Linked DNA regions of Homo sapiens. The protein of the gene in region 2 purifies or fractionates together with the protein of the main gene of each other region. This does not show direct contact. Each region holds a gene or a part of one and is shown on either strand. Other genes may lie near its edges.

Evidence for each region.
Region 1: the proteins of CAV2 (region 2) and DHCR24 purify together in Homo sapiens (affinity purification with mass spectrometry; 2 studies listed by BioGRID and IntAct, with this or other methods). This does not show direct contact.

What each region holds. Positions count from the first base shown.
Region 1 is NC_000001.11:54,877,196-54,884,195, forward strand, and holds part of DHCR24 (delta(24)-sterol reductase precursor), read right to left. Parts: intron 6,579-7,000; coding exon 6,423-6,578; intron 1-6,422. UniProt on the Homo sapiens protein: Catalyzes the reduction of the delta-24 double bond of sterol intermediates during cholesterol biosynthesis.
Region 2 is NC_000007.14:116,494,729-116,502,868, forward strand, and holds the start of CAV2 (caveolin-2), read left to right. Parts: upstream 1-5,009; 5' UTR 5,010-5,053; coding exon 5,054-5,203; intron 5,204-5,317; exon of another isoform or gene 5,318-5,531; coding exon 5,532-5,719; intron 5,720-8,140. UniProt on the Homo sapiens protein: May act as a scaffolding protein within caveolar membranes. Interacts directly with G-protein alpha subunits and can functionally regulate their activity.

The DNA of each region.
Region 1 (7,000 bases), on a different chromosome or scaffold from region 2:
GATTTTCCTTTCACACTATTTTGTATGTTTTAAACACAACACACACAAACCAAAAGCATATCTCATTTTCTGTTTTGCCTTTTTAAAATTTAACACTATACTATGACCATCATCTCTTATCATTACACATTCTTGGAACACATGATTTTTAATGTATACATCCCTTGGACTTCTACTTCTAGCCGAAGTGGAATAACAGGAACCACATTTACCCTGCTGCCTGAAAAAAAAACCTGACAAAATATATGAAATAAGAGTTTTCAATGCAGTGGACATAAACAATTAAAGTTAGTGATCCCTCAGAGACAGGAAACAAGGTGAGCTCTGAGGCGGGAGGACTGCTTGAGGCCAGGGGTTCGAGACCAGCCAGGACAACATAGCAAGACCTAAAAATAAAAAAATAAAAAATTATTTTAAAAAAAGGTGAGCTCTAGGGATGGCCCATTTAACTGCCTGGAGTTAGGCAGTGCAGGGAGGGAAACCCAGGTGGTGGAGTCCAGTGGACTTTCTAAGAGTTAAAAAGATGGAGGTGAGGCTGGGCATGGTGGCTCACGCCTGTAATCTCAGCACTTTGGGAGACCGAGGTGGGTGGATCACCTGAGGTCAGGAGTTCAAGACCAGCCCGACAACATGGCAAAAACCTCCCTCTGCTAAAAATACAAAAAATTAGCTGGGTGTGGTGGCAAGCGCCTGTAATCCCACTTACTCAGGAGGCTGAGGCAAGAGAATCACTTGAACCCATGGAGGTTGCAGTGAGCCAAGACTGTACCACTGCACTCCAGCCTGGATGACAGGGCGAGACTCTGTCTCAAAAAAAAAAAAAAAGAGGTGAGAGTTCCAGAAGACCAAGGTGAATACAGTGTGCAGGACAGAGTACTGGAGAGGAGAGAGTTGCACAGAGAAAAAACTGAAGAAATGCAAAAGGCGTCCTTGGGAATTCAACTGAGTACTAATCGGTAAATACACATGAGGCTATTACCTGAGGCTGAAGCCAGGGAAAAAACTGCCAGAAAAGACAACAGGTAATAGGCTAGGCATGGTGGCTCATGCCTATAATCCCAGCACTTTGGGAGGCCAAGGCAGGTGGACCACCTGAGGTCAGGAGTTTGAGACCAGCCTGGCCAACATGATGAAACCCCGCCTCTGCTAAAAAAAAAAAATACAAAAAATTAGCTGGGCGTGGTGGTGGGTGCCTGTAATCCCAGCTACTCAGGAAGCTGAGGCAGGAGAATCACTTGAATCCGGGAGGCGGAGGTTGCAGTGACCCGAGATTGCACCACTGTACTCCAGCCTGGGCAACAAGAGTGAAACTCTGTCTCAAAAAAAAAAAAAAAAAAAAAAAAAAAAAGATAATAGGTAATAGTACCAGGGACTCACACAGGGCAGGAGATAGTGTCTGTTCCCACAAGCCAGACTAGAAAACTTGATGATTCACAGGGCACTGTGTAGAGTACTCAAAATGATCTTGCCTCATAATAAACTCAAGATTAAATACTTCCCTGGCCCCATCTAAAAAATTGAGACCCAGTGGGATCAAACTATTTCCAAGTAACTTAGCTGCCTCCTAGAGCAAAACTCAAAATTTATAGGAACATAAAAATACCCAGCTCCCCAAAAGGTAAAATGTCAGAGTATCACAATGTCAGAATCCAATAGAATTTTACCAGGCATACAGAGGCAGAAAAATTCAACCCATAATGAGAAAAATCAATCAATCAAACAGACCCAGAACTGACATAGATATTAGAATTAGTGAACAGGGACATCAAAACATTTATAATAACTATATTCTCTATATTCGAAAATTTAACTAGAGACATTAAGAATATATTAAAAAGATCCGGCCAGGTGCAATGCCTCACACCTGTAATCCCAGTGCTTTGGGAGGCCAAGCCAGGCAGATCACCTGAGATCAGGAGTTGAAACCAGCCTAGCCAACATGGCGAAACTCCGTCTACTAAAAATACAAAAAAATTAGCCAGGCGCGGTGGTGCGCATCTGTAATCCCAGCTACTCGGGAGGCTGTGACAGGAGAATCGCTGGAACCCAGGAGGTGGAGGTTGCAGTGAGCCGAAATCACGCCACTGCACCCAGTCCAACCTGGAGGACAGAGCAAGACTCCATCTGAAAAAAAAAAAAAAAAAAAAAAAAAAAAAATCCAAATCAAACTTCTGGAAATGAAAACCACAATGTCTGAAATGAAAGATACAATGGATGGCACTAATAGCAAATTAGAAATCGCAGAAGAAAAGATTAGTTAACTTAAATACACAGCAACAGAAACCAACCAAAATGAAAGAGAGGAAAAAAATTTCTTTTAAATGAACAGTGCCTCAATGACCTGAGCTGTAGAACAACTTGAAATGGCCTAGCTGTCTCTAAACTAGATGAGAAAAAGGAGGGGACAGAAAAACAGATGAAGAAATAATGGCCCCCAAATTTCCTGATTTGATGAAAAATTATGCCAAATTCCAAACAAGAATTATGAATAAAACTATACCAAAGCACATCATAATAAAATTGCTCAAAACTAGTGATAAAAAATCAACATACTTCTAAATAATCCATGGGTCAAAGCAGACATCAAAAGGGAAATCAAAGTATTCTGAACTGAAATAAAAAGAAAACATATAGAAATTTGTGAGCTGCCTCTAAAACAGTGCTTAGGGGAAAATTTATAGCACTAAACATTTATATTAGAAAAAAAAGGTCTAAGTCAATGACTTAAACTTTAACCTTAAAAAACTGGAAAAAGAGTAAAATTAAACCCAATGTAAGAAAAGAAATGAAATAATAAAGACCAAAGCAGAAATCAATGAAATTGAAAACAACACACACACACAAAGGGAAAAATCAATGATATCAAAGCTAGCTTTTGAGAAGATCAATAAAATTCAATAGCCTTTAGCCAGACTGTTCAGGAAAAAAAGAGAACAGAAACAAAATACCAGTATCAAGAACGAAAGACCTGACATAGCTACAGATATCTAAAGGAAGTATTGTGAACAACTTTATGTCAATAAATTATACAACTTAGTGAAATGGACAAATACCTTTGAGACACAAACTACCAAAGCTAACCCAAGAAGAAATAAATAAACTGAAGAGCCCAGTACCTATTAAAGAAATTGAATTTGTGCTTAAAAACTTCCTTACAAAGAAAACTCCAGGCCCAGAGAGCTTCACTTTAAGGTTTCTATAAAAATTCTACAATAAAATATAGGAGAAAGCCTTTCTGACATTGGATAGGCAAAGATTTCCTAAATAAAATATCAAAATGCAAAGTAGGCCAAGCGCGGTGGCTCACGCCTGTAATCCCAGCACTTTGGGAGGCCAAGGTAGGTGGATCATTTGAGGCCAGGAGTTCGAAACCAGCCTGACCAATGTGGTGAAACCCCCTCTCTATTAAAAATACAAAAATTAACCAGGTGTGGTGGTGTGCACCTGTAATCCCAGCTACTTGGGAGGCTGAGGCACAAGAATTGCTTGAAACCGGGAGATGGAGGTTGCCGAGAACTGAGATAGCACCACTGCACTCCAGCCGGGGCCACAGAGCTAGACTCTGTCTCAAAAAACAAAAATATAAACAAACAAACAAACAAACAAACAAAACCCCCACAATGCATAAAAGAAGAAATTAACAAATTGGGAAAAATTAAAACTTCTGATTTGGCCAGGCGTGGTGGCTCACGCCTGTAATTCTAGCACTTTGGGAGGCCAAGGCAGGCAGATCACCTGAGGTCAAGAGTTTGAGACCAGCCTGGCCAACATGGTGAAACCCCGTCTCTACTAAAAATACAAAAAATTAGCTGGGTGTGGTGGCACATGCCTGTACTCCCAGCTACCCAGGAGGCTGAGGCAGGAGAATCACCGGAACCTGGGAGGCGGAGGCTGCAGTGAACCAAGATCGTGCCACTGCACTCTAGCCAGGGCGACAGAGTGAAACTCTGTCTCAAAAAGAAAAACTAAATAAAGCTTCTGGTTTTCAAAAGAGAAGCCACAGACTGTGAGAAAATATTTGCAAATCATGAATCTAATAAAGGATGTTGTTTCAGGGTCTAATATCCAGCATCAATAAGGAACTTAAACAAACTTACAAGAACAAAACAACCCCCATTAAAAAGTGAATATAAAAAGGACATGAACAGACACTTTTCAAAAGACAAGCATGTGGCCAAGAAGCATATGAAAAAAAGCTCAACATTACTGATAATTAAAGAAATGCAAATCAAAACCACAATGAAATACCATCTGACACAGTCAGAATGGCTATTATTAAAAAGTCAAAAAATAACAGATGCTGGTGAAGTTGCAGAGAAAAAGGAACATTTATACACTGTTGGTGGGAGTGTAAATTAGTTCAACCATGTGGGAGACAGTGTGGTGATTCCTTAAAGACCAAAAAACAGAAGCAGCATTTGACCCAGCAATCTCATTACTGGGTATATATACCCAAAGGAATATAAACCATTGTATCATAAAGACACATGCATGTGTATGTTTACTGCAGCACAACTCACAATAGCAAAGACATGGAATCAACTTAAATGCCCATCAGTGGTAGACTGGATAAAGAAAATGTGGTACGTATACACCATGGAATACTATGCAGCCATGTTCCTTTGCAAGAACATGGATGCAGCTGGAAGCCATTATCCTTAGCAAACTAATGCAGGAACAGGAAACCAAATACCGCATGTTCTCACTTATAAGTGGGAGCTAAATGATGAGAACACATGGACACATACAGGGGAACAACAGACACTGGGTCCTATCAGAGGGTGGAGGGAGGGAGAAGGGAGAGGATCAGGAAAAATAACTAATAGGTACTAGGCTTAATACCTGGGTGATGAAATAATATGTACAACAAACCCCATGACACACGTTTACCTATATAACAAACCTGTACAGGTACCACTTAATTTAAAAGTTTAAAAGAAAAAAAAAAAAGATGTTTCCAGAATATATAAGAAAACCACCTGAATTTTTTTAAATTGGCAAAAGATTTGATCAGGCCTCACCAAAGAAGATATACAAATAGCAAACATGCACATGGAAAGATCATTAGTCACTAGGGAAATGTGAATTAAAATTACAATGAAAAACTACTACACATCTATTAGAATGGCTAAAATTAAGACTAACCATATCAAGTCTATTACAATGTGGAACAAGAACAACACTCACGCTGCTGGTGGAAATGTAAAATGCTACAATCACTTGGAAAAAAAATTTGGCACTTCCTTAAAAAGTTAAATGTACACCCACCTTATGATCTAGCCATTCCATTCCTAGATATTTGCCCAAGAGAAAGGAAGGCATGTGCCCATACAAAGACTGTTCACAAATGTTCCATTTTATTTGTAATTGCCCCAAACTGGAGCCAGCCAAAATGTCCATCAGTAGGTGAATGGATAAACCAGCTGTGATACATCCACACAATATGTGTGGGAATATGACTCAGCAGTGAAAGAGAATGAACTATTGACACACCTTTCAACATGGATGAATCTCCAAATAAAGATGTTGAGTGAAAGAGGCTAGACAAACAAAAAGTACTGTATGATTCCATTTATATAAACTCTAGAATCAAACTAATTTATAGTGGCAGAAAGGTCATTGTTTGCCTAAGGCTGTGGGGGGCGGGTAGGGGAAGAGGCAGGGCTAGGGGCTAGAGGAAGGGATTACCAAGGAGCATGAGGAGATTTTGGGGTGTGATGGGTATGTTTGTTGTCTTGATTGTGGTAAGAGTTTTACCACACTTTAAATACGTCAATAAAGCTATTAAAAAAAATGGCACAGAGAGATTAAGTAACTTGGCCAAGGTCTCACAATAATAACAAAATGCCATCAAGTAGACATACCATATTTAATGACTACCCTATTATTGGATATTGTGTTGTTGTCAATTAGAAATAAAGCTGTGATATAATCACTCTGTGTTGGGTATCTTTATACTGAAGCCTATTTCCTTTTTCCTTAAGCCAGGTTTCGAGAAGTAAAATTACTAGATGGGCCAAAAAGTATGTACATTTCGAAGGCTATTAAACAAGAGGGTTTCCAGGAAGCTTGTAACAAGACCCATGTCTCTCAGTCACTTCTGTAGCCCATTTTTTACCAGCACACTTCCTTATCAGGAAGGGGTAAGTAGATTCCTTTTTGCCTCTCATTTTTGCTCACGAATTCCCCATTCCTGACTTCCTGTGGAAACGCAAAGGGTTCCCCTGACCTATTATGACCCATCTCTCCCCTGGTGGCTGTGAGGCTTGAGGACAGCAATGGCAGGGAGTATCTTCTATGACTGTGGGCATTGGTCCTGTCCACTCTGCAATGCCCTTGGCTAAAATCATCTCCCTATGAGTCACTTGCACCAGGGGCAGTGCCCCACCTGCTCCCAGAGCCCGGAAAAGTGCTACTCTCACCTGTTTCTTGGTGTCCACTTCCAGAATGTCCATCAGGTTGATCATGATGTTTTTGTGTGTCTTCTTGTACTTCCCGACACGTAGTGAGACAGTGAGCCAGCCAGGGCGCCCCGTGCACATGAAGGTCTTGCTACCCTGCTCCTTCCATTCCCGCACCTGCAACCACAGGACAGAGGGTGAGCTGGCCCCACTGGGAATCCCCAGAGCAGCCTGCAGCCCTGCTTTCTTCAAGGGCGAGCTGGGAATGATGCCTCCATCAGGCACTGGAGAAACAGAACAATGAAAAGGCCTGCTGGCCCTACCCTCTGGCACCTCCCTGGCCAGCAAGGCTGACAGAAAAGCCAACATATTGCTACACCACAAGGCAGAATGATGAAAGAGCTAGAAGAGAGGATCGAAGTGTTCTGAAAACATTAACTCTAGCTGGGAAGTTCAGAAAAGGTTTTGTAATGGTGATAATAGCAAGTATAAAAATGAGGACCATTTACTGGGTATTCCCAACACACTAGGCATCTACTGCACACTGTCTTGTGTAATTCCTACAACAGTCCCAGGAAGTTACGATGACACCCTTTTTT
Region 2 (8,140 bases):
AGTTGATTATTGACTAACTTTAATAGCAGACATTTTTGTCTATTCCTTTAAACATTTTGTGGAGGAAATGTCCTCTGTATTGGGGGGGGTGGGGGGACAGTTGGAGGTGGGGGGCAGATAGTGGTTGAGTGTGAGTTGGAGGGTAGAAGGAGGAAATTAAAAGATGCATTGATAAAGCAGTAGGGTACAGGAGTTATGCAAGCAATAGTTTATGTAAAGCCACAGAGAGAGTGGCTTATGCCAGAAACAGCAGGTCCTTCCAAATTTCTCAAGCTTTGTCCTTGCTAACAGTAAGCAAGCCTAGGAGGGGATGCTTGAAGAACCTGGTAAGCAACTGCCCGGCTCTCCCACTAACAAGTCCATGGATTTCTCAGTTAAGGTTACTTAAAATTGCAAAAGCTATTCACTTGCTGAAGATTGTCAAAAATCACTGAATTTTATAGCTTTAAGAGAGAATCTTACAGATCAAGAAGTCCCAAGCCTGTATTTTTCCAGATATAATCATTTAAACAATCCTAACCTTTGTGAGGAAAGTATAGGAGGCCAGGCAAGGTAGACAGAGCTTGAGGCCTTGGCAGTTGCTTCCTTTTGATCTCTAGGGGAAGGGGGTGGGGGTTAATATGTATTCATTAATTAATACCAACATTGTATTGAAAAAATTGCAATTAGTCAATGATAATGGGTTCTTCTGAACATTTTACATGACAAACAAATATTCTTAAGTTTAATTTCAAAAAGACGTGGAGTTTCTTTCTATTTTTTTTTTTAAGATGGGCCTTGCTCTGTGCCCTCAAACTCCAGTCTACAATCTCAAACTCCTGGGCTCAAGAAATCCTCTTGTAGTAGCTAGGACTACAGGCATCTCTCACTACACCTGGCTAGTTTTTTTTTTATTTTTTGTAGAGACTGGGTCTCACTATGTCTCCCTCCTCAGCCACCCAGAGAGCTGGGATTATAGGTGTAAGCCACTGTGCCAGGCCTAGCCCTGGAGTTTCTAATACATTGGTGATACAACTCTGAGATTTCTAAGCATGGATTTGTAAATGAAGAGCTGGAGCTTAATTTTTCTAATTCACACAGCACTGTTTCAACATTGTCTTATTCAGTGGTTCTCAGCCTGGGAAAGAAGGAGAAAGGTGATTTTGCCCCCCAGAGGACATTTGGCAACATTTGGAAACATTTTGGTTGTCATGACTGGGAGTGTTATAGGTATCTAGTGGATAGATGCCAAGGATGTTGCTAAACATCCTACAATGCACTGGACAGTCTCTCAAGGAAAAATGATCTGGCCCAAAATGCCAACAGGGTTGAGATTGAGAAACTCTGGTCTAATCTGAACACTCTGAATATTATTAAAACATATGGTGAGATCAAGAATTTATTACTGCATTTTCGTTAATACCAATTTGCTCAAAGGCAGTTTGAAAAACAGACCCTGACTAAAATTGCATGTGCGTTATACAGGGAAAAAAATATGACACATTTGTGATTTGAAAAGGAAAAAAAGCTGAAGGGAAAAAATTAGATATTTTTATTCATAAGAGCATTGCCATACAATTTTCAATGCTCCAGAAAAATAACCTTCTTCCATTGACACTGTGCTGAAAGAAGTGAGTAACAAAATGGTTATAAACTATCCTTCTCACAAATTCTAATCTATTATCAGACTGTTATTTCTAAAATATATTAATACACCATCTAAAAAACAGCCCTCTTATCAGAAGCTATGATACATAATAAGTCAGAAGATAAATGCACCAGTAGGAATTTATTATAATTTTTTTAATTTCTCTGGATTACAGGGCACGTAAACTCTGTAGGAGGTGCTTATTGGAGAGTAATTCTGTGATCCAGAAGACACTAGAATGTGTTCAGCCATTTAGCACCCACCCACCCCCTTTCTTTTCCCTTTCCTGGTAAATTTTCCTTTATGTTCATAAGGACAGATGCCATTGCTGTGGGAATCACTCTGGTTTAAGCCTCTTGAGAAAAACAGTAGCTAACTATATTAGTCCGTTCTCACACTGCTATAAAGAAATACCTGAGACTGGGTAATCTATAAAGAAAAGAGGTTTAGTTGGCTCACAGTTCCACTAGCTGTACAGGAAGCATTATGATGGCATCTGCTCAGCTTCTGGGGAGGCCTCAGGAAACTTACAATCATGGCGGAAGGTAAACAGGGAGTATCACCTCACGTGGCCACAGAAGGAGCCAAAGAAAGGTGAGGGGGAGGTGCCACACACTTTTGAAGGACGAGATCTAATGAGAACTCACTCACTATACAGTACCAACTGCGGGGTCGGGGGGCAGGGGTGGCAGTGGGGGTGGTTGCTAAACCATTCCTAAGAACTCTGCCCCCATGATCTAATCTCTACCTCCCACCAAGCCCCACCTCCAACACTGGGGATTACAGTTCCACATGAGATTCGGGCAGGGACACAAATCCAAGCCATATCACTAACCTTATCTAAATACTGGCCAATAGGATAAGCAAAATCATTTTTATAGCTTCCTTCAAAAAATCTTATGTATTAAAATGTTGAAATGTATAAGAATTTCATCAAAATAAGAACCTCACCAGATCTGACCCAAGGGAGAGAAGATTGTTCAATAAAAAATTACAAATGGATGAATAAATGAATCCTCTCCTTTCAAGTTCTGTGCTCCATACAACAAATCTAGATGGGTCTCATTTAGATGGGATTTAGAGACACCTTTCTTAAATACCTATCATTTTACGAATGAAGCTGTTGTCTAAAGAGTCCTCTTGGCCACTTCCTGAAAACAAATCAATTATTTGTGATAACTCTCAAATGTCCTAATAATCCCATGGAAAATGTAAATGTAATGAGGACCAAGAATTATAAGGTAAGAAGTGCTAATGTCAGATTTTTACCCACTACATAAGCCCACTCTTGTACTAGGGCAGTGACTTTCTTCTTTGGGTGAGACCTTGAAATCTGGGATTATAATTTTGAATTATAATTATAAAATGGTATTTGGCTGTAAATTATCTCCTTTTTTTTTCTGTTCCTCACAGTTGATATTATGGATTCCCATAAGGATTCATGTCTTCTATTCACTTTAATGAACAGTTGTTGGGCAACAATTCTAGAAGAGTTCCAATTCTCATCAGGAGAATGGACAAGGTGGAGAAGCAGAGAAAATGCAATGAGTAGAATGTCTAAGTCATCACTTTGGAATTGACTGAACATAAATAAAAATGAGAAAGATACGTAAAAAAGAAGGGAATGGGTAAGCAGGGTGATGTCTGGGAGAGGAGGGGCTCCATAGCCATGAGAGTCAACTCTGTAACACCCTATAGGGTTACAACACTGCCCTTCATATACTGAGGTAGCAGCAGGGAAACTTTTTAATTATTAGAAATATTGAACTTTGCCTCCCACCCCCAAACATTTTTCTCATTCAGTTCCTGTTCTTTTTTATTTCTGTAATTTTTACTGTTTCAAAAATGATCTTTTTTCTTTCGGAAGAAGCAATTCTTCAAATCCAGTTCACATAAGGGGATTTGATATGTTCAACAAGCTCCAAATACACTGTATCCAGCAATACCTACTACATGCCTACTTTGAGCTCTGAGCAACCTGCACCTCAAGCCTAGTTCTCATTGTTTTGCTTTTGGCAAATTTTCACTAAGTGCCCTTCCTCCCCAAACACACGTATATGTCTACCAGACCCTAAAGCCCTTTATGAACATGCAAACTCCTCCCTTCTGAAAACCTTTGCGTGAGTGGTCAGCAGGCTAATTCATCCATTGCAATGTGGCTTTGTGTTAGGGTTCTGTTTCCGTGCTGCCTGCAAGATAATCACAGATGTGACTGCATCTTAGAAGTTCCTGAATCTTTCAAGACAGTCTGGTTCACAAGAAAATTAAAAGGTGGAGGTCGGGCGCGGTGGCTCACGCCTGCAATCCCAGCACTTTGGGAGGCCGAGGCGGGCGGATCACCTGAGGTTGGGAGTTCGAAACCAGCCTGACCAACATGGGGAAACCCCGTCTCTGCTAAAAATACAAAATTAGCCAGGCGTGGTGGTGCATGCCTGTAATCCCAGCTACTCGGGAGGCTGAGGCAGGAGAATCGCTTGAACCCGGGAGGCAGAGGTTGCGATGAGCCGAGATCGTGCCATTGCACTCCAGCCTGGGCAACAAGAGCGAAACTCTGCCACACACACACAAACACACACACACACACACACACGGTGTAGTTTAGGAAGTAAAAAAAAAAAAAAAAAAAAAATCAGATCTCCCCTCACACCTCAGATCTGAAGGCACAAACTCTAGGGCCAGGGCGTTCGCCTACCCAACTCCACATGCACTTGCAGGTCACCTAGCACTCAGGTACCTAGCACTCAGGTACATTGTGGCTCCTTACCTCTCACGACAGCAGCAACAACGTTGATTGGAAGTTTATCACTGTGTGTTACGGGCCATGGGCCATGTGTGTTAGAATTTTATGTGAAATTAACATTTAATTCTCACGGACACCCCTGAAACAGATGCCACAGCCCCCATTTTGCCAACGAGGCAGCTGAGGTTCCCAGAGGCTCAATACCAGCACCATGAGCCGCAGCACGCAAGGCAAACACAGCCGGAGGTGAGCACATACCTGCTTCGCACCCCATGCGCCTAACCACAAGGTTCCCTCCCTCCAGGAAGGCCGTTGTCTTCCCTGGGACGACTTGCCAGCTCTGAGGCATGACAGTACGGGCCCCCAGAAGGGTGACCAGGAGGCCCTCCTCGTCCCAGCTGCCGGCGTCGCCGCCCACTGCAGGGCCCGGGCTGTGACTCGTGGGGACGGTTCCCTGCGCCCCGGCGGGGGAGGTGGGCGGGGAGGGGCGGCGGGGCGCCGGGGCGGGGCTCGGGACGGCCGGGCTGGGAGCTGGAGCCCACAGCGGGAAGCGGCCGCCGCCCGGGCCTCGCAGGGCTAGGCGAGGCGAGGGGGGGCGGGGCCGGGCGCTACGGGAAGGGGAGGCCGCGCGGACCGGGAGCCGCACCGCGCCAGCCGGGCTGCAGCGGCCGCGCACCAAGGCTGCGATGGGGCTGGAGACGGAGAAGGCGGACGTACAGCTCTTCATGGACGACGACTCCTACAGCCACCACAGCGGCCTCGAGTACGCCGACCCCGAGAAGTTCGCGGACTCGGACCAGGACCGGGATCCCCACCGGCTCAACTCGCATCTCAAGGTGAAGCCCGGGGCGGGCGGGCCCAAGTCCCCGCTGAGGCCGGGAGGTGCGGGCGCCCCTCAGCCCCGCCCTAACCCGTCCCACCATTGCTACCGGGTCGGCCCCGCAGGGTCTGAGACCCGCACCCTTCCCCGGTCCCACCCGTCACCAGGCCGCCCGCGTAGCCAGGAATTCTTAGCCAGGTTCCTGTGCGCCCACCGTGACCCTAAGAGAAGAGGCGGACGCCCTGGCACGTCCTTCCCTCCTGCTTCCCCCGCCCAAAGCGCTCCCGGTTCCCGGGGCGTCAGGTTGGCTGACAGTTCGGGGTCCCTGCGTCCTGTCTCCTCAGCTGGGCTTCGAGGATGTGATCGCAGAGCCGGTGACTACGCACTCCTTTGACAAAGTGTGGATCTGCAGCCATGCCCTCTTTGAAATCAGCAAATACGTAATGTACAAGTTCCTGACGGTGTTCCTGGCCATTCCCCTGGCCTTCATTGCGGGAATTCTCTTTGCCACCCTCAGCTGTCTGCACATCTGGTGAGACGGGGCACACCGGGTGGACCGGCTTTCTGAAACATGGGCATATTCTCCGCCACCTGCCCCCTACTCTCCTCTTATCCCAGGCCGGCGTCAGGAGGAGGAACGCGCATCAGTTCCCAAGCAGTAGGAAGAACTGGAAGGCCTTGAAAGGCAATGCGCTTCCTTTAGAATAACAGTTTGGGCTTGGAGTTTCAACAGGAGAAAGAATGTCGGTCTTTCCTGGGGTGTGATTTTCCTTGCATACATAAGGCTGGGCTGAGTGTGGAGGCGGGTACCTGGAAGCCACACTTCTTACCACAGGCTGCTCTCGGGGCCCTGTTGTGACTCGTACCTGCGGTTCTGGGCAGGACTCTTCTTTCTTTCATTGCCTTTTATTCAGTCACTGCCTGTGCTTGGGGTAAAACAAAAGTGATCTCTGAGCAGAATGCCGCTGACAGTAGAATTGGATGAGGATGTCAGACCTGGTTAAGCAGTAGTGTGGAGGGGCTGCTTCAACTTTGCCCCTGGCAGATGGCAAGGATGGGACCCAGAGGAAAGGGAGGTGTGTGCAGTTAAGGCGAGGGTCCCCCCCAGTACAAACGAATGAAAACTCCAGCTGCGGGATAATGAATGAGAAGGCCTCCAAATTACTTTTTCACTGATGAAACACAAATGGAAGTGGCATATAATTAAAGGGGAAAGAAATATGGAAGCCCACTGTATATTGATAGGATATTTTGAGTAACTCTATTCATACTCAAAATGTGTCCTAAACTGTAGAGAACTTTCTTAAGCATCTTTTAAATTTTTTATGGAAAATGTCATATTTTACCAATAAATGTTGTTGTGTTAGAAAATATCCACTTTAATCTGAGAGGAAGAATATTCAGATCATCCCCAGTATCACAACAGTTGTCACGCTAGTGCTTCAGGTTAGTCCTGGTGAAAGGTATAACCCAAGGTACCTCCGTGTCTTTCTTACACCTTTTATGATATTGCCACACCCTGATAAATACTCGGTGTTCATTGTTAGAAGTTACCAATTTATCCTTTATTTCTCTATACCACCTGAATCTTAATTTATTTAGTCAGTTAGCTAGCTAGTTAGTTCAACAAACTTTAAATTGATTGAGTGCTTAGTTTGTGCTGGGCACTGGGCCAGGATGAATGAGAGATAGGGTCTGCCTTCAGCTTACTCACAGCCTTATCAGGGCAGCTGGCTAGGTACAGAGATGGACGCTGAGAAAACACAGTCAACTGACAAAGAGGGAGGAACAGACAAGGCTTTGAAGAGTGAAAGGAGTCGAAAAAGACTTTGAAAGGATAAATGAAAATTCACCAAATACGTAAAGGATACACAAAGAACACCAATTTAATTTTATCACTAAAGGTTGTAAACAATTAAACTATGTTGAAGGTGCCAAGATTGCCAGGGAAATGAAAATGTTGCCTTAGTACATGATCAGCTTCATGAAGGTCAAATGGATAGTTATATTCTGACATTTGCACTTGAATTTTTTTTAAGATCCCTGAGTTGGCACATAAGATTTGGGATTCCCAATTAACTAAAACTAATCATCTAACCTCTATGTCAGTTTTCTCACTTTCAAAACTGTGAAAAACTGAGTGACCGCATAGCATATTGTGAAATGCTGACTATGAAGCTATTTGGAAATGTGAAGTACCATATTTATAGTCAACAAAGCTAGGCTTCCCAAAGCTTTTGTGAAAGAATTTGAAAAAAAAAAGTTTCTCATTTACTAAGTGGTGGAAAGATATAAGTAAAACTACAATTAACCAAGCAATGCCTCTCTCCAGCTGGCTCTTCTGAGAATGGGAGGTGTTTTTGTATAGTGCTTCAATTGGTGAATCATCAATGCACCTTTTTTTAGCCACATAAAATGTATTATTTAATATTATTTAACTTCAGCTTGTTTTTTTAACTATATTTATGTGGGGCATTAATATTTAACTGTAAAACATTTGTCACCAGGCAGCTGTGATTGCAAGTAGAGGAGTAATTTCAAACAAGAATGCTTAAAAGTTAGCTATGCCTTGATAAAATAGGTTTATCATTAATAGATTGCATTCCCATGACATGATAAGACCAGATCAAGGACAGACCTTACAGAATTGCAAACCCATTTGGGCAAGCTTTTTTTGTTTTGTTTTCTTTTTATATATATTTTTTAAAGCAGGGGCTTGTGTATTGTTTTTACCAAAAAGTTAGTGGTGACCAAAGCTAGGAAAATATGCAGTAGTGGAACTTTGAACCATGTCACAATATTAAAACAGGTCAGATTTTAGATCCTTTAAACAAACAATCAACAACAATAAAACACAGAAGTCTGGTGGTGTTGGATCCTAGACCAGAAGTACGGGCCATTAGGAATCAGTGAATTAGTTGGATTCCATACTACAGTCAGACAGAGATAGCTG